2 separate regions of the Homo sapiens genome follow, and region 2 is reported to be linked to region 1. The links are microRNA targets in miRTarBase. Many come from high-throughput screens and were not tested one by one. Region 1 holds a microRNA gene; the other region holds the end of a gene's coding sequence.
Evidence for each region. The annotated mature microRNA hsa-miR-296-3p reads GAGGGUUGGGUGGAGGCUCUCC and lies in region 1 at 4,104-4,125, opposite strand. An mRNA with a match to its seed (bases 2 to 7 or 8) in the 3' UTR can be bound and repressed. Matches are read on the target gene's strand: a 7mer-m8 pairs with bases 2 to 8, a 7mer-A1 pairs with bases 2 to 7 and ends in A, and an 8mer does both.

Region 1 (9,323 bases):
TACTGTTATGTGCACTCACACACACAAATACATGTGCACACAAATGCTGCACACGTGTGCACACACTCCACATGCAGCTATGTTCCCCCATACCCCTTCATCCCAGAATGTCCCCACCATGTAGGTGGAGGGGCATTATCTCTGTGTCCCTCCCATGGCCCACAGGGGACTCACCTTCTCTGACCTTGCCTGCTGCTCTCCTCTTCCCCTGGCTCACATGTGGGAGATCAGAGCATCAGGTGTGAGGGTGTTGGGGGCAGGCTGCAATTTCACAGCCCTGTTTTTTTCTGTAGCACCAATCTCTCCCAGAAGGCGTGATGCCTCCGTTTCTCTGTTTAGAGTCTGCCTGCACCACTCCTAGCTCATGAGTGCTGGGTCACAACTGTTTATATCTCACACACACACACACACACTTTAAATAAACTTTTTATTTTAAACTTTTAGATTTACAGAAAAGTTGAAAAGCTAGTGCCGAGCTTCTGTGTCTCCAACACCCAGGTTCTACCACTTATACTGCCATGTGATTTGTCACCACGAATGAACAGTATTGCCTGAAGCCCGCGCAGTGTGCAGACATCACTGGCTTCTCCCTAATGCCCTCTCTGTGCTCCAGGACTCCATCCAGAAGCCTACGTGACATTTCATCATCACATCTCCTGAGGCTCCTCCAGGCTTGGCTGAGTCTCTCAGCTTTTCCTTGATTTTGATAACCTTGACCATTTTGAGGAGTGCCAGTCAGGTATTTTGTAGATTGTCCCACAATTCGGGTGATCTGATGTTTGGTTCATGGTTACATTGGGATGATGCAGTTGGGGAAGGAAGACCATGTGGTATCCAGGGTATGTATTAGGCACAGGAGGATCCCTGATGACACGGGCCTCCAGCTGGCTAAGACACAGCTGCCCAGGTTTCTCCTCAGTGAAGACCGTTTCCCACCTTCAATGTGTACTCTTTGGAAGCAAGTCACTAAGCACTGTGCATACTTCAGGGGTGGGGAGCTACGTTCTATCTCCTTGAGGGGAAGTATCTACCGGAATTATTTGGAATTATTCTGTGCAAGAGATTTGTCTCTTCCATCTACTTATTGAATGATTTATATCAGTCTGGACCTGTGGATATTCTATGCATTGGGTCACAGTCCAGTTCTGCTTTGCTAGTCCCATGTCCCAGCTGTGACCCTTGGGAGCTCCTTCTGTCAGCTCCTGTGTCCCTGAAACCTGCCGCCATTGCTGGGGTACTTCCTTCCTGACACCACATGATGCTCCAGGCTCACCTCGCAGTCTTTGCTCCAACCAAAGAATAAGTCTTTTTTTTTTTTTTGAAACAGGGTCTCTGTCACCCAGGCTGGAGTGCAGTGGTGCAATCCCAGCTCACTGCAACCTCCACTTCCTGGGTTCAAGCAATTCTTGTGCCTCAGCCTCCCGAGTAGCTGGGACTACAGGCATGCACCACCACGGCCAGCTAACTTTTGTATTTTTAGTAGAGATGGGGGTTTCACCATGTTGGCCAGGCTGGTCTTGAACTCCTGGCTTCAAGTGATCTGCCCATCTCAGCTTCCCAAAGTGCTAGGATTACAGGCACGAGCCACCATGCTCAGCCAGAATAAGCGATTTTCACCAAAAGCCTGGTTCCTTTTATGGGAGAATGGCGCCACCAACTAAGGCCTGGGTGGCCTCACTGCTTCAAGGTCCTCTGGGAGCCCCTGGAAAGAACCAGGCAATAAAAGGGCATATACTAACCCTCTCTGCACACCTATGGAGACAAGTCTTTCTCTATCCACCAGACTCTGTATTAAGCGACACATCACACATCACCAGGACTCCCGGGAAGTCACAGATTTTCTCTATGTCAACGATCCTGGGCCAGCAGTTTAGCTCACGTTTACAGAGAGCAACCAGCCAGGTGGCAAATGCATCTATCTTTTTTTGGCGTTGGTGGTGGTGGCTCCTAGCATCTAGCTCGGGGAGCTGCTGAACACTCTATAATCCCCAGGACGGCCCCCACCAGGGATGGAAGCAGCCCTGAAGGTCAGCAGTGCTAGGGTGAAGGCCTGGGGTGCACAGATGCCGCAGGAGGGAAGCCTGGGAGAGCCGCTGCTGCTCCCCTGCCCCGCTTCATTTCCCAGCATGCCGCTTTTCCACACACGACACAGCCCACCCACTTCCTGTTGGTGGTCTGTCTCTCCCCTCCAGAAGCAAGCTCCATGCAGAAAGGGCTCTTCCCTCTTCTGTGACTGCCGTGTTCCACCCACATGGCTGGGCCCTCGGGAGGGCTCGGTGTCTAATGATCCCATGGGGAAAGGGGAGCTGGAATGGGGCAGAAGCCACCAGAAGGAAGGTCAGCCTTGGAAAGGAATCACAGTGGGTTTTCCCGAGACAGAGGGGCGAGTGGCAGGTGGGGTGACAGAAGGGAGGCCAACCCTGCAGCAGGGCTGGGGGCAGTGAGGGCTGCAGGGCCTGGGGGCAGGGCTCCCATGAACTGTGCTACGGCACAGCCCAGGCATGGGGACACCCAAAAGAGAGGGCTGGGGTGCCAGCCTTAGCGGGAACAAGCAGGGAGCCCCCCACACCCCCACCTCAAGCTATGTCTCAAGGCCTGAGCCCCTGGGGCGTGCGCTTGCGTGTGAGTGAAGGCCTCTCTGCTCTCTTCCTGGCCTTCCCCAGCGCCCCTGGCCTCTTGCCCCATTCACACAAGGCCTTTTCCGCCTGGTACCTCAGCTGTGGGGCCTGGCTGGTGTAACTCATGGGGCCCCAGTGGGGGGCAGAGGGGCCACTGGTTTCCTGGCCTGCTGTCTCCACCAGGGTCTGGATCCAGGCACTTCTGCTGACAGCGCCCAGCGCGGGGCCACCATGTGCCCAGCGGCCTCCTGCAGAGAGGCCCCTGGGGAAGCTCCCCACTGGCCCCCTTTCCCCTGCCTAAGGGGAGGCCACAGCCACGGGAAGGGCTCAAGAATGGACTTCAGGGGTCCCTGAGACCCCAGAACTTTCAACTCTGAGTGACGTTCTTGCACTGGGAAGGGCCACTGTTCCTGCAGGTCCGGACTCTATTTTGGAGACTCCGCCAGCTCTAGCAGGAGGGAGGCTCACCCTTGCTTCTGCCCTCAGGACAGATGTGGGGACACTTTGCACCCCAAGTCCTCCTAGCCATGCCCGGCACCTCCCACCAAGTCTTGTCCACACAGGGAGCGTCAGGCCACCCTGCCTGTCACACCCCAGTTGCCTTCCTGTCTTTTCATCTTTTTGCTCTGTCCATCCACTCATCCATTGGTCCGTCCAGCAATAACCTGAGACCTGCTCCGTCCTAAGTGTATGAGAGAGTTCTGCCCTTTGGGGTTTAGTCTGGTGGGGGAGACAGGTGTTAAGACAGTGAGCCCGCAACTCCCCGCTGCGCTAATGCCATGAAGGCAGGGCCAGCCGCAGCAAGAGGAATCACAGTGGGGGCAACTGGTTCCACGCAGGAGTTGAGGGTGCCATGTTTCCAGCATGACCCCCAAGCAGCCACCATGAGTCAGAAGCAACCCAAGACCGTCAGACACTGCGCACTTGCTTCGAGGACTCTAGCAAGCAGAGCTGGGCTCTATGAAGAGTAAATACAAGAGCAAACATCCACCACTCTTTCTACACAAGTTTATTAGGCACCTGCTGGGTATCACGTGTGGAGACAAGCTGGACAACGTAACAATCCGCAAGGCAGCTACGGCCTTGCCCTGGAGCTCCCAGTCTAGCAGGGGTGGAAAACAGGTAAGCCCCCCAGCGGAAGCCCCAGACCTGGCATGCTGTGAGGTCGGGGAAGGAGCGGGGGCTTTCCCGAGGAGGCGTCAGTGAGGGTGGAGAGAGCCTCCGGAAGGGGAGCGGGCACCGGCGAGGATGGCACCGCATCCTGCAGGTGCTCGTGGCTGAGGGTGGGAGGTAGGTAAAACTCCCGGCAGTGGGGACCCACGGGAGACTGTGGCAGAGGCGCGGCACGGCGAGTTCACCATTCCCCAGTGCCCGGCCGCCCCAGGGGACTCAGCAGCTGACATGACAGGGGCCCCTCTTGTATCGACTGTCCTGTCTCCACTCCTGGCACACAGCTGCGGGTGCAGCGCTCTTCAGAGCCCTTCAGGAGAGCCTCCACCCAACCCTCTGAATTAGGCACAACAGGATTGAGGGGGGGCCCTCTGGAAGGGTCCTTTCTCCTCACCTCCCACATGAGGCTGGGCCTGATTTCACAATTTCACTCAGGATCTTCCCTCCTCAATCCTCCCAGCCCTGTCCCATCTCAGTGGCCTGTGGTGGACCCCAGATCCACAGACACAGGCCCTCTCCGCACAAGGGCTCACGTGGTCCCCAGCCAAGGCCCCTACAGCACTTTCTACGGAGCCCTCTTCCCAAACATGCACATCCAGCTTGCCTCTCAGCCACCCCGCCTCCATCTCAGCTCCAAGGAGGCCTTGGCAGCAGGCTCGGGGCGCCATGGAACGGTTCACTGCGTCTCTGCCCTGGCCTCACGTGCTGCCGGCTGGCCTTGCCATTCATCTTCTGAAGGCTATTCTCTGATGGCTCTGCTGGCCACCTTGATCTGAGTGGCAGGTCTGTGCTAACAGTGTTTTGTGTGGGGCCCTGGGAGAAGAGTCCATGAACCACTGCCTAACTCAAGTGCTGCCACGGTGAAGCACCCCTGCCTAGTTCTGAACAGACGCAGCACATCAAAGGGGAGCCGGCAGCTCACTCCTGAGCAAAGCAGCAGGCTAGTTCCTCACAGTCAAGGAAAACCACTGGGAGAACCTCCCTGCTTCTGCTGAAGACCTGAGCTGCTTCTCCCGGGTCCCCCAGTGCTGACAGGCCTCTAGCATCAGGTCCATGTGGCTGATTCTGGAGATCTTTAGGAGGATGGGACTGGCTGTTGAGAACTGTCAGTATGAGTCTGTCTGGCTACTCTGCCTGGGAACATTCACTGAGACATAAAGAAGATATTAAATAGCTGGAAAATTAGGAACCCAGCTAGGGCTGGAGGGGAGGTCTTAGAGGATCATTCTGTAAGTGCTGCCGGGGAAGGAACAACGGTGAGGGCTCAGGCTGGCTCTCTCTAGGGTCCTCCACAGGAGGAAGAAGACCACAAATCTAACCAGCCTAGCAGCCCCAGATACACAGAGCACATGTGGACAAAGCTGTGGCTGCCTGCATTCCATGGGATCATCTTGTATGCAGCAGTAAGAAGGGTCTGTTCTATGACTGCTCTGCTGCCTTTTTTTTTTTTTTAACAGCAGCTGGTTTGGAGTCTCCCACGTATTGCCTGAGGTGGTTTGGTGGTAACCAGCTAACAAAAATCCTTTCATTTTAGGTGCCTGTGGGTGGTGTGGTCGCCACCAAGAATGAGTCAAGCCATTTCTAAAGAATCCACAGTAGGCTCTGTCTGACAGGGTGCATCTGGGAGGGCCTGCCGGGCCTTTATTCAACACTAGATACGCCCCATCTCCAATTCTAATGGACATGTGCAGAAAATGTGATACAGAAACCTGCAGAGCAGCCAGTTCCCAGCGGACGTCAGAGATCAGCTCTTACCTCAAGGATCTTGCTCACCAAACTCTCTTTGCTTATCAAACCTTTCTTTCAGAGGGCAAAGGTTAACTCCCATCTAGAAGAGGTTGAAGTACTATGGTTTTCAAACCAGGAACGTGGCACTAATGAGGCGGAGCTCTGGAGAGGCACAGCTGCAGAAGGTTCCAGGGACCCTTGGAAGCAGACAGGGACCCTTGGGAGCAGACAGGTTTGGAATAAAAACAAAGAGAAAAACAGGGCAAAGGATTAACAACAGAAATGAAACCAGGCGCACACACACTCACCTGCGGCATGATCGCCTGCGGTCACACTCCAACTTGATATCTTGCTTCCAACGGCCAGAACGGCCATCAGTGGAACTTACTTTCACGGGCAATCTTTAGGCTGTTGTTTATTGTTGATTTAAGAGAGAAGCAGTTATGGTTTTGAAAACATGGCCCTTTTTCTGATGGGGGGAGAGCAGGTTTCAATGAAATGGGTGTGGAGTCCCAATCTCCAAGGCCTTTGTGTCTGATCTGAGAGAAGCCATCTGCCAGAGTCAAATTCTTCAGGGCCCTCAAGAACAGAGGGCAAGAAGCCAGGCTTAGATAAGCCTTTTCTGAAGCCCTCTGGCTGGCCAGAGAAAGGAGGCAGGGCTATGGTGCTCCACTGATCCTGTAGGGCCGGGGCAAGGAATGGGAACCCAAGCAGAAACCAGGCAACCAACCAGGATTGTTTCCATCATGAAACAATAGAGCAGGCAAACCCATCTACCTCTGGTCCCAACCTTTGTCACGGACAAAAAACCCAGACCCACACAGGTGACCACGACCTCAGTGTGAGGTAGAACAGCTGGGACCCGGACTCAGGTCCAACAGGTGCCCAGGGCAAAGGGGTCCTCGCACCCCGCCCCAGGTGACCCTCCCAGAAAAGGGGTGCTGAATGCTCATCCGTACTGCCTCTGCGGCCGTGCCATCTAGTGGGGAGGGGCTTGGGCACTCTGTGCCCCACCAGAGCCCCCAGGTTCTCAATCTCCAGAGTTCAGACGCCCGCTCCAGTGGGGGCACCAGGAATGGCAAAGAGATGCCTTCACGGTGTTGATGGTGTGCGCCAGCCACCCATGCACATGACCTGGTGTTTCTGTCGTGGAACTGGAGATGCGGCCTTAGGTGCTGACCGCTGAGCCACACAGGTGGGGCTCACTTTCTCACCTATCAAGAAATATACATGGGAAACCCACAGAGCCCTGCCTCCTGGCCCAGCTGCCAAGACGAGGCTGAGCCGAGCCTCTAGAAGCACCAGGTAGACGAAGGGAGGGAGGCACCACAGTAACCGGAGCCATACCTGGCACCTGGACACCTACCCGAGGGAGCTCTCCAAGGGTGCCCCACCTAAGGCCTAAGGAACCAGCTCTGACTATAGGCTGAGTCCCAAAGGGCCAAGGAAGATTCCAGAAGCACTAGTGAACCTTCTCTACACTGCCAAGCCAGAGGCCTCAGAGAAAGGCAGCCTCTCCCAGATGGACCCTGTATTAGTCCGTTTTCACACTGCTGATAAAAACAAACCTGAGACTGGGCAATTTACAAAAGAAAGAGGTTTAATTGGACTTACAGTTCCATGTGACTGGGGAAGCCCCACAATCATGGCAGAAGGCAAGGAGGAGCAAGTCACATCTTACATGGATGGCAGCAGGCAAAGAGAGAGAGCGCTTGCGCAGGCAAACTCCCGTTTTTTAAAACCATCAGATCTCATGAGACTCGCTATCATGAGAACAGCACAGGAAAGACCCACCCCCATACTTCAATCACCTCCCACCCAGTTCCTCCCATGACACGTGGGAATTGTGAGAGTTACAATTCAAGATGAGATCTGGGTGGGGACACAGAGCCAAACCATATCAGATCCCCTTCAGTGAAAAGACCCCAGCTACCCAATGTGGGGCAGCTCAGCTCCTGCTCTCCCCGCTCTCTTCTTGCCACAAGAATCCCATCTCCTAGTCAGGGAGACCTTCAAGCCAGCAGGGCCCTGCTCAGAAGCCTCAGGGCTTCCCGCTGCACTTGCAATCAGACCCCAGTGCCATGGCCGTGGGCTGCCCTTATGGTGCTGCCTCCTCAGCTACCCCAGCTCCTTCCCTGGCCCCTGCTCACTTCCTGCAGCCAGACTGGTTTCCTGCTTCCCTACAGCTCATGGCCAGCTCTTTCCCACCTCAGGGCCCTTCCACTGGCTGTCCCCTCTGTCCAGTGTGCTCTTTCCCCAGCTCCTGTGACTTGGCAGGCTCCTGACTCACCAGAGCCATCACCTCGGACTCCTCCATCAGCTCCATCATTTTCCAGGCAGCATTTGAAAGGCGACCTCTGGAGCCTGACCAGCCACTGGAGTTCAAATCCGGACTCCACGATTTTCCTGCTGTGTGGCCTTGGGCAAGCTATCTGACCTGTGCGTACCTCAGTTTTCCCATATGTTTGCTATGAAGAGTAAATTAATGCATTTCTCTAATGCCTAGAACATGGTAGGCACCATAAATCAGTAAGAGGAAGGGCTTCTCTGTGCCAAGAAGCCTGAGTGTGGGGCAGGCTGTGCAAGTATGGCTAACCCTAGCGTCCCTTGGAAGCCTACAGGAGGAGACTCACACTTCTTCAGAAGATGAGGGGATCTTCTGAGCCTTCATGTACATGGCTCTGAAGGAGTTAAGGCCTAGCTGTGGTCACAACTACCATGGATTCTTCTCTGAGGCCTGGATGAGCAAGAGAGAACTCTGACCCACTAAGGAAAAGGAGGGAATTCTGAATACGAATACGGATTAACTCAGGGGCCGCCTGAGGCCCACAACAGCCCCAACAGAAACTCCCCTCCTCCCTCACCTCCTCTCCTCTTGAAATCCTTGTGCTGAAAAGCAAGGCCCAGGTTTCATAGCAGCCTGGGCCTCCTCTGGCTTTCCTAAGTCATCCCTATCCCGACGAGAATGAGGGAGGCCGAGGGATGCACAGACGTTAAGTGGCTATGGTAACTGCCCTAGCCATTTTGTGTTTCTGCTCAGCTTACTAAGGGGCCCACCAGGAGGAAGGCAGGCAGCCATGATGGCTCCCCAGACCCGGCCATTCAATGCTCATCCATCAGCCCAGGTCTTCCAGACCAATGTCACAGCAAAGGCAAGGAGGCCCCGGCCAGAACTCAGTTGCTGGGTCCCTGCCCAATTCTGATGATGACCCTTGTTTCTTATAAGATAATAATAGCTCCACTTTACTGCAGGGAGAACAAGTGCAAATGCCTAAGGAGGCCAGGCCCCACTCAGAGATGAGTGACAGGCACAAGTGGTGGCAGGCACAGGGGTGTGTGTGCTGCTGGCCGAAAGGGGGCGGCCGCACCCCAGCTACGGTTGTCTATGGACAGGAAGAGGCAGGCCCCAGAAAACTAGAGGCTCCACTAGACCAGGAGAAGTCAAATGGCCAAAGGCTTCTGTAAAATCTGCGGACACCTAAACGTTGGCGGTCATCATCATTCATCCTTAAAAGAACTCCTGTGTGGTCGAAACATACCATGTATCTGGGTGAGAGCAGGCCTGGAGAGCAGCTTCCGGCTCCATCCCACAATGGAGGCTGGTCACCCATTAATTTGTACTATTAATAAAGGTGGCGAACATTTAGGGACACTTTTCTGAGTGTCAGGTGCTGCTTGTTCTTACTTAATTCTCTCCTGGCCCCTTCCCTGAAGTCAGGAAACTGCCTTGGCAGATAAATAAGTCGCCCCAAGGCCCCGGAGTGGAAAGCAGGGTGCTGAGGTTAGCGCTCACATCTCTCTGATGCC
Region 2 (9,323 bases), not on the chromosome of region 1:
TCCTCAGTCCTCTCAGCTGCACGCAGAGATCTCTTCCTGCCGAACCTCCTCCCTAGACACAGCCCACGCTTTCCACATCCCTGACCTGGGGAGAGGGGTGTGAATGCGGAGCACGGGAACAGAGAGAGCAGAGGGCATGGTAGCTTAGGGGTGGCAGAGAAGCGGGGGGTGACCTTATGCAGAGGAGAAGGCTGGCTTCCGCCGGGGGCCAGGAGGCAGGGCCAGCCAGGGCTGCCACGGGGCTGAGGCTCATCCTCGCCTCTGTTTCCATTTGGGGCTGGACTGTTCTCAGCTGTGGAGGCGGCCTGTGCACTGCAGGATCCTAAGCAACACCCCTGGCCTCTAACCCCTGGGTGCCAGGAGCACCCCCACCCCCAGCTGTGACCATCAAAAATGTTTCCAAACACTGTCCAATGTCCCCTTGGGGGCAAAGCCACCCCCAGCTGAGAACCAGTGACGCAGGGTGAGGATTCAGAGGGGAATAAGATGGGGGAGTGGAAAGTCCGGAGAGAGGGCAGGAAGGGCGCGTAGGGACCCCCCCGCCCCCGCCGAACTTGCCCCTCCGCTCCAAGCACCACCACGCCCACCTCCCGGTCCTCCACCACAACCCCCTCACCGTCACACACGGCCCCGGCGTCCTCGCGGTGGTGACAGTCATGCTGGCCCCAGGGCCGAGCTGGGCAGAATCGTAAGGCCGTCTCGTTTCCCCGACACCGAAGGTCGTCCAGGATGATGGGTCCAGACCCCTCCCCAAAGAAGGCGCCCCCGGGGGCGGCCAGCGCCCCTCCGCAGCCCAGCTCTCGGCAGGCCACAGCGGCGTCTCGCAGGTCCCAGGCGTCGTCACACACCGACCCCCAGCGACCCCCGTGCCAGACCTCCAGGCGGCCGGCGCACCCGTGGGGGCCATCGGCCAGGCGCAGCCGAGGTGCTGGGCCTGGATAGTGGGAGAGGGAGCACAGGGCCAGGAAACGAGGGTGGATGAGCGGGGACTAAGCTATGCTCAGGCAGGCTGCAACCCCAAGATGACTCTGGGAAGCAAATATTCCATCTTCACTATCCAAATGAGGAAAAGGTTCCAAGACAGGAAGTCACTGGCCCGGAGTCCAACTCTGGCGCATCCCCCATATCCCTTGCCTTGGGGCGGTGGGGGCTGGGGACGCTGGGAGCTCTGGCTCTGGTCCCCTGGATCCACCTCCCATGCCTGGCCCCTCGGATCCTAGAGAGCCGGATTTCCAAGTCTCAGCACCACTGGCATTGGGCATCCTCCTTTATCGTGGCAACTGTCCTGCACTGCATCCTCTACCCACCACATGCCAGTGGCAACCCCTCCCCCTAGCTGCGACAACCAAAAACGTCTCCAGACATTGCCTGATGTCCTTTGGGGAGGAAGGGGATGAGAAAGCCCTCACTCCCTTGCCAGCTGAGAGCCACTAGTCTAGATATTAACCTCTCGCTGGCCTTAGGATACATAGGGTACATTTCATTTTTTTATTTTTGGGGGGAGGGGATCTCACTATGTCACCCAGGCTGGAGTGCAATGGTGCAATCTTGGCTCACTGCAGTCTCGACCTCCTGGACCCAAGGAATCCTCCCCGCCTCAGCCTCTCCCAAGTAGCTGGGACTACAGGCATGCGCCACCATGCCCTGCTATTTTTTTTTTATTTTATATTTTGTAGGGAAAGGGTCTCACTATGTTGCCCAGACTGGTCTTGAACTCCTGGCCTCAAGAAATCCTCCCAAAGCACGTGGGCTACAGGTGTTAGCCTGTAACCATGCCTGGCTCTTCGGGTACATTTCTGTTGGGGTAAGAGTTGACTCATCATTGGAGGACTCTGGAGTCCCTCTCTCTGTCCCCCAACGAGGCAGGTGCAGAATTGCCCCCAATCACTGTTCTAGAGAAGAGCACAGAACTAGGGAGGAGTCTAACACACCTGTCTGCTTTTCCTCATCTGCAGACAGGGGAGGGGAGCGTCTCCCTCCCGGGGTTGCCATGAGAATTAAATCAGATGCTGGCGAAGCTCCCAGCTTCACCGGGCGCCTTAGTTCATTTGTTTCCTTTCTTGGCACCTTCACCCTCTCCTCTCCAGAGCCTCAACTTCCCTCCAATGAACTCTGCTCCGAAGGTCCCACTTCTTCCCCCACAGCTTGTACACTAGGCACACGAAGGCACCACCCCCACCCCATACAAGCCTTCTCTGCTGCTCACTCCCACTCTGACCTCCGTGTCCCCACCACGTCCCTATGGCCGACTGTGCAGTGGGACAGGCATGGAGCGTGGGTCTATACAGACCCAGAGGGGTCAGCGGCTGGGGCTGGAGCTTGCTAGGCACCTGGGTCTTGGGCCATTTACGTCACCTCTCTGAGCCTCGGCCCCACATCTGTGAAGAGAGGGATGAGGATCCACCCCGTCCGGGCTGCGGGAGGCTCAGAGCGGCCCCAGGTAACGTGCACAGCGCAGGGCCCAGCATACAGCAGAGACTAGGGTCAGCCTCTTTCTCTCTTCTCTCCCCCCTGGATACCCACTGATGTCAGCATTTCCTACCCATCCTGGGCAGGCACCCAGCTTTGCCTGCAGCCCGTGTACTGTCCCCACCCCAACGCTGATGAAATGCCAGGTGGGTGCCCTCTGCCTGCCGGCCTCCTACAGTCAATGGATCGGGCAGTCCAGCAGGGTGGGGCCTGCCGTGGTGGTGTGTAAAGATTTGTGGAAGGAAAGAAAGGAAAGAGAAAGGGAAAGAGGGAGGAAGGAAGGAAGGAGAGAAGGAGGGAGGGAGCCCCTGAGCTCTCACCTAACACCCCCCAACCGCTGTTTGCTGGGTTCTATCCCAGGTCCAAGGGGTACAGGAGAGGGGAGGGACCCCCTGGGAGACATGAGGGGAGGAGACCCCGCGCTGAGGGGGCGTGAATGAGGGGAGATGGAGGCTCACCCGTGGGTGTCCCCACCCTGCCTCAGTCTCCCTCCATGCCCCCAAGTCACCGCCCTCCCTCCCTCCTTCCCACCAGCTCCCTTGAGGATGGGGAAGGAGCAGAGGTTGGCCACAGAGACAAGAGGTCTCCGAGACGGTCCCCTGCCATGGCCAGCCCGGTGGCAGAGGGCAGGCAGGGCTTCTTGCGTTCCAGGACTTGGCTCAAGCCTGAGGCAGGCATTCTTAGCTCCATCGCTCCTTCAGGAAAACTGAGGCTTAAACAAACGGTCACTGGCCTAGGCCCCGGGACAGGGCTGAGCACTAGCCCAAGCCTCAAGCCTGCTCCTCCCATTCCTGGCAAGGAGAACGGCAGGAGCTGTGGAAGGAGGGGCTGGAGAGCGTGGTGAGTGGGCGCTGGGCATGCAGAGAGCAGGCGGGCAGGAGGCAGAGCTGGGAGCAGGCCCGCTGCAGCTTCCTGGAGGGGCAAGAGGGAGCTGGGGTCTGAGGAAGACAGGAGGGGGCCAGGCCCCAGCCCGACGTACCGGTGCAGACCAGCCCCGCATCCTCGCTGTGGTCACAGTTGCTCCGGCCCCAGGGGCTTCGGGGGCAGTCTCGGAGGGCCTGTTCTCCTCCTCCACACCCCACATCGTCCATCCACACGGGCCCTGCACCAGGCCCGAATCTGGCACCGCCGGGGGCAGCCAGCGCCCCCCCACAGCCCAGTTCCCGGCAGGCTACAGCAGCGTCGCGCAGGTCCCAGCCATCGTCACATACGGTGCCCCAGCGCCCGCCGTGCCAGACCTCCAGGCGTCCGGCGCACCTGTGGGGGCCAGAGACCAGGCGCAGCCGCTCTGTGGGGTGAGCAGGGAGGGGACGGTGTGGCCAGTGAGAAATGATTCAAACACCCCTTCCTCGATTTCCACCTGGGGAAACAGGCCTGAGGGAGCGGTGGCCTGAGATCTGTCCGCCGGCAGCCCGTGAAGAGGTGAGTCCACGACCTGAGCGGGCCAGGACACCTGGGCCTCCTGACAGGGCAGGAAGAAGAGGGGAGACCAGGCCTGGCCGTCTAAATCCCCGGGGGAGGGACGCGGGGAACACTGGGATCCCTCCAGGGCCCCGGCTAAGGAGAGGGCGCCCGCAGGTCCTCAGTTTTTCTGGGCCCTGGGCCTCACAGCAACCAGCCTTGGGGTCGGGGGAGCCTGCAGGGAGCTTACCTTGGCGGGGGGCTCCTGTCGTCAGCAGAGGGGCCCGGGTGGACTTGGCCTGCTTGGGCCGGGGGCTCTTCTTCCGGGAGGCGTTCTGGGGGTTCCCAGCTGGGCGGGGGGCTGGGAGTGGAGACAGCCAGGGGTCAGGAGCTGAGCCCCTCATCCTTCCTCCCACCTGGGGGCCCAGGCCTCCGTCTCTGAGGGTCTGAAGTGATGGAGGACTCCCTAGGCTATGAAGGAGACGGGGCGGGGCAGGGGGCGGGCTGTGTGTCCCCTGGGAGTTCATACTGCAGAGGTCCCTCTCCCCTCGGTGGGGGCAGGAGGGCACGCTGGGTGGGGGTTGGCAGGGCAGTCCCTCTCCCCTCGGGGGGGGCAGGAGGGCACGCTGGGTGGGGGTTGGCAGGGCAGTCCCCTGGGCTCACCATGTGTCACCAGGGGCTCCTCCGTGCTGGGGCTCAGCTCCAGCAACAGCCCTGGCCAGGGAGCCCCATCCAGGGGAGATGTTGAGTCGTCCCTGGAGTTAGCCACACGCTGACCTGCGGCGGGGGGGCAGGGACAGAAGCTATGAGGAGAGGAGGGGAATCCAGGCCATTTGGGTCCCTGGAAGAGGGAGTTAGCCACCTGGCTTTGGAGGGGATGGGAGGTTGGGTGTCTCTGAACTGCTGAACACTCAGACTTGCTGGGGCTAAGGACTTGGGGTTCCTGGGTCATCTCCAAAGGAGCTCCCCCTGAAGGAGCAGCCAGGGTGTCCTCACCTGCGCAGACGACGCCCGCGTCCTCCTCGTGGGAGCAGATGTGGGCCTTCCAGCCCCGGTGGTGGCAGAGGCCCAGCTGCCCCTCGTTGCCCCGGCAAGCCAGCTCGCTGAGCCACACAGGCCCTGCCCCCTCCCCGAAGAAGGCGCCTCCCGGGGCGGCCAGTGCCCCTCCGCAGCCCAGCTGCCGGCAGGCCACGGCGGCATCGCGCAGGTCCCAGCCGTCATCACACACGGTGCCCCAGCGCCCGCCATGCCAGACCTCCAGGCGGCCAGCGCACCCATGGGGGCCATCGGCCAGGCGCAGGCGCTCTGAGGGTTGGAGGAATGGCTGTGACTGGGGAGGGGCATCCTGGGGGCCCCAAGGCCAGGGCAACTGTAGGGGCAGGTGGCTGTCCTGCAGGTACTGTCTGTAGGCCAGTGGCCCTGCTCACTGGCCCCTGGGCCCAGACTCCTGGGTGCTCAGAGAGATGCGGCCAGACACCTGGGGGATTCCCTTGCGGAGCTGGGGCCAAGGTCACAGTGGAATTCGGATGGGCCGGGGACCCAGTGGGGGTGAGGCCAGGCCTGGATGGGCAGAAGGGGGAGGCCTGGGGGGGGGGGCGGGCAGATGGGAGGAGTCTGGGCACTTACCAACAGCCTGGATCCCCACCAGGGCCGCTGGAAGGGAGGGCGGAGGGTGGGGCAGTGTGAGGGGCAGGCCGGGGGTGGCCCTTTCTCCAGCGCAGGCCCCTCATCTTGAATACCCCAACACACACACACACACACACACACACACACACACACACACACATGGGCTTGGCTAAAGGTCAGATGTCTGGGAGATCCCCCGCAGGGTCAGGGCTGGGGGGCGGGCAGGGGGCAGGTCCCTTGGGCTTCTGGGCTGGCAGAAGGCTGGGCAGATTGAGCAGGGATCCTCAGAAGGGATGTCAGGGTATGCAGGAGCACCAGCGACCAGTCCCGGAAGTTTGAGTCCCTAAACTGGACAAGCTAAGGGGTCAGAGGTGGGGGCCTAGGCCCCCCGAGTCCCCAAGGAGAATGGATCACTCACCAAGGAGGCAGGCCAAGACCCTCATGGTTGCAGCCAGGGCAGGGGATGGGGTGAAAGGGGAAGGAGAGCGGGGAGAGAAGAGGAGGAGGCAGCTGGGGAGAGAGGGAGGGAGGGAAGTGCCTGCTGGAGGCGCCCAGGCCCGAGGAGGAGCAGGCAGGGCTGGACGCTTTGCCAGGAGGAAGAAAGAGGCTGCAGGGAGGCGGCAGGGGACGGTGGGGGGGAGGGGGGGCGGGAGGGGGCTGGCCGTCTGCTGAGGCATGGGGGGGAGGGGGGTGGCGGGCGGGAGGGAGGGTGTCCAACTGCAGACACCCACACGGGAGATGGAGACGACGGCCAGGCAGGCTCCAGCCAGCAAAGTGCTGTGCCCAGAGATGCTTAGGGGGTGGCCGGCTGCAGGAAGGCACAGGACAGGGGTTGGGGGACGTGTGCGGGGGGGGCGCAGCATGAGCGGGAGGGGCGCCCACCTGCTGTCTCCCCTCTTGTCTGGTCAGGGAAATCCAGTGAGACCACTGCTAGGGTTGGGGGCTGGGCAGACCTGGGGTTCTTGGTGCAGCAGCAAGAAGATTTGCAGCCAGACACCAGGAGGGACTTCCTGGGTTAGGAAAAGAGACTGAAAGACCCGGCCCTCCAGTCCTCCCACTCACTGGTGGATCTGAGTGTGAAGCCCCCAGTCCCCAGCTGAGAGAGGAGAGGTTGAACTTCACTGTCCCAGAGGGAGCTGGGGTCGGGGGATAAGCAGCACAAGGGTCAAGGCTTGGGAAGGGGAGGGGCTCCACACACTCTTCCACACACTCACACACACACACACACACCCCACTGCCTGCACACCAGGCAGCTGTGAGGCGGAAAAAATTCGGTAATGGGGAGCGTGACTCAGAAGGGCTGGCAGGGCCTCGGGCTGCCCCTGAGCTCACAGCCTCCCCTTCTCCCAGTCCAGCACCGTCCCCCAACAATTAATGTTAACTGGGGAAAGGAGAAGCCAGACAGAAATGGGCGGGGGTGTCCGGAGACAGACTGGGAAAGCCATCAGAGAAGAGACAGGCACACAGCGGTTTCAGGCTTTATTAACAAACGGTGTAAAAAACCAGACGGATCTGGAGGAAGGGACAGGGCTGCCCGTCTCAGCTCTCAACCTTCCCAGAGAGGGGCCAGGCCTGGCAGCCCTGTGCGTCGCGCCTCCTAAGCAGTCAACCTTGTCCCCTCCAAGGACAGGCATCTGACCCAATCCAGGTCCCAGGGAGGCGGAGTCGCAAACCCTAACTCTGGGGTGTATTCTGCTCGGCCTCCTCTCCCCCTCCCCAGATAGCTCTCCCAGCCTGGGGCACGGACAGCACAGACTTTGCAGACATCACCCGGGGAGGTTTCTCAGTGCAGACAGGAGCTGAGGTAGGGGTTGGAGAGGCTGACCTCGAGAGGCCCCCGAGGGCCAGGAAGGAAAAGGAGTCATTCCACTCTGAGAAGCTCAAACACAACAGACTTCACACTGCTGACGGGTGGACAGAGGCCAGGCTCCTCCCCTCGGCAGGCCTCTGTTTCTGGGCCCAGGGTGGTTGAGGACTCACTGAGGGAGAGCAGGTAAAAGAACCCGCAGACAGTAGGCGATCATCAGGTGCTGGCGCCCCTCCCTCCTCCCCTGCCCTGGCTGTCAGTCTGTAGCTTCACAGGTCTTTGCTGAATTCCCTCACCAGCGTGTAGCCCAGGCAGCCCCAGCCCCCCTCGGCCTGGTAGCCACAGCCCTCCAGCATCCCTCCCACCCCCCAGGCGGCCACAGCCACGGGGACCACGAGCCGGGCCCGGGGCTCCCCCATGCCCCCAGCCCAGGCCCGAGCCCGGGCCTCCGCGAAGGCCAGCAGCCTCCTGCCCACGCCCCGGCGGCGGTGCCAGCGAGAGACAGACAGGCGGGTGACCCGGGCCCCGTCCCCTGCATTTGTGCCAGGGGCCAGAGCCAGGACCCCACACACGTCACCGGAGCCCCGCACGGCCACCCAGGGGCCCCCCAGGCCACCCGGCGGAGGCAGCGAGCCCCATCGGGCCCGCAGGCCCAGCTTCACGGCGGCCACAGCCAGGAACACCGGCAGGAGGAGGGCCAGGGCGAAGGAAGCCAGGACAAAGCGCAGGCCGCTGCTGGCCGCCGCCAGGAGGAGCAGGGCCGGCGGCCGTGTCAAGGCATGGAGGGCCACGCGGTTTTCCGTGTCCTTCACGCCGGCCTGTGGGCAGGAGGGGTGGCTCAGCCATCCGAAACGCTAGGGCCTCCTGGACAAAGAGAGGAGGTAGACCCTGCCCGGGGCGGGGTGAGAGCTCCCAAATGGGAAGGGAAGGCAGCACAGTCCGATGTTCAGTGTGGCACACTGGGTATGGAGTGAATGAATGAACGAGAGCGAATGATGGATGGATGAGTGAATTAGGAGCTGTGGGGGCACTCAATTCAGTAGCAATGCCGCAGTGAGGCCCCAGGGAAGTAAGGACAGGGAGGTTGCCTCAGGCTGGAGTGGAGGCTGGAGGGAGGCTGCTGGGCTAGGTTGGGGTGCTGGGCTGTGCTTTGAAGAGTTGGGGTCCGAGGCACAGAGCTGGCTGTTGTGCTGGCGTGCACAGCCGACTGGAGATGGGAGACCAGGGAGGGCGTTGGTGCTGGGGTCCCAGTAGGGCTGGGGGGGTGAGCCCCCACCTGCCACACCTGCTGTGGTTTTCAGCAGCAGGGCGGCTGAGGCTCAGGAGGAAAAGATCCCGCTCCAGGGGTCCAGGCTGGCTCAGGTGGGTGGGAGGGGGTGGCTGAATCCACTTGCAATTCCCCCACTGCAGCCACTCCCAGGCCCCCTGGGGCCCCTGCCTCTCACCTTCAGCATCTCCAGCACCAGGGGCTTCTCATCTTCCCTCATCTCCCGCACTGACAGGTGGCTGGGGGCCATGGCAACCCCCAGGCCCCGGCCCCCCAGAAGGGAGCTGGCGTCGTGCACCTGGTGAGAACATAAGTAGGTCAGCGTCAGGGGGGCACCTCTGTCCCCAAAGCTCCCCCGAGGGGTAGGGAGCAGCAACGGCACTTCCCAGATCAGGACACTGAGAACCCTCGGGGCCCCCAAGCGAGGATCTCGGCAGGACAGGCGCCCCCCACAATACTCAGCGACCTTGCTAAAGTCTCCCGGGATCCCCCCTCCCCCGTATTATTCAGCGATCTACACTCCCAAACGCGCTGCGGACGCCAACACTGCAGCACGGGGCTCCCTCCCAGGCACTGGGGTCCACGAACACCCTCCCCACATGCCAGAGAACGGACCACGCTCGCTCCACCCCGGTCCCCAGCGCCCCCTCCCCCACAGTCGTCCCCGTCCCGCGCCACAAGAACAAGGACCAGCAAGCACCTGCACCGGTCGCCTTTGGTCCTTCGACAAGGTTTCGGGAGCGGGTCTGGAAG

Region 2: miRTarBase lists NAT14 as a target of hsa-miR-296-3p. The part of its 3' UTR that is shown has no 7-base or 8-base seed match.

What each region holds. Positions count from the first base shown.
Region 1 is chr20:58,813,523-58,822,845 of GRCh38, forward strand. MIR296 (microRNA 296) reads right to left here and starts at 4,172; the gene lies at 4,093-4,172. It overlaps MIR298 (microRNA 298), which reads right to left and starts at 4,791; the gene lies at 4,704-4,791. It also overlaps GNAS-AS1. RefSeq lists an enhancer at 1-173.
Region 2 is chr19:55,485,206-55,494,528 of GRCh38, reverse strand. It overlaps NAT14 (N-acetyltransferase 14 (putative)), which reads right to left. Exons shown (of 3, transcript NM_020378.4): 1 at 9,271-9,323; 2 at 8,749-8,868; 3 at 6,963-8,121. The coding sequence starts at 8,820. The coding sequence ends at 7,573. It overlaps SSC5D (scavenger receptor cysteine rich family member with 5 domains), which reads right to left and starts at 6,093. Exons shown (of 14, transcript NM_001144950.2): 1 at 5,915-6,093; 2 at 5,497-5,523; 3 at 4,867-5,175; 4 at 4,534-4,647; 5 at 4,121-4,231; 6 at 3,449-3,757; 7 at 617-934. The coding sequence starts at 5,939. RefSeq lists an enhancer at 8,702-9,031 and a silencer at 9,132-9,323.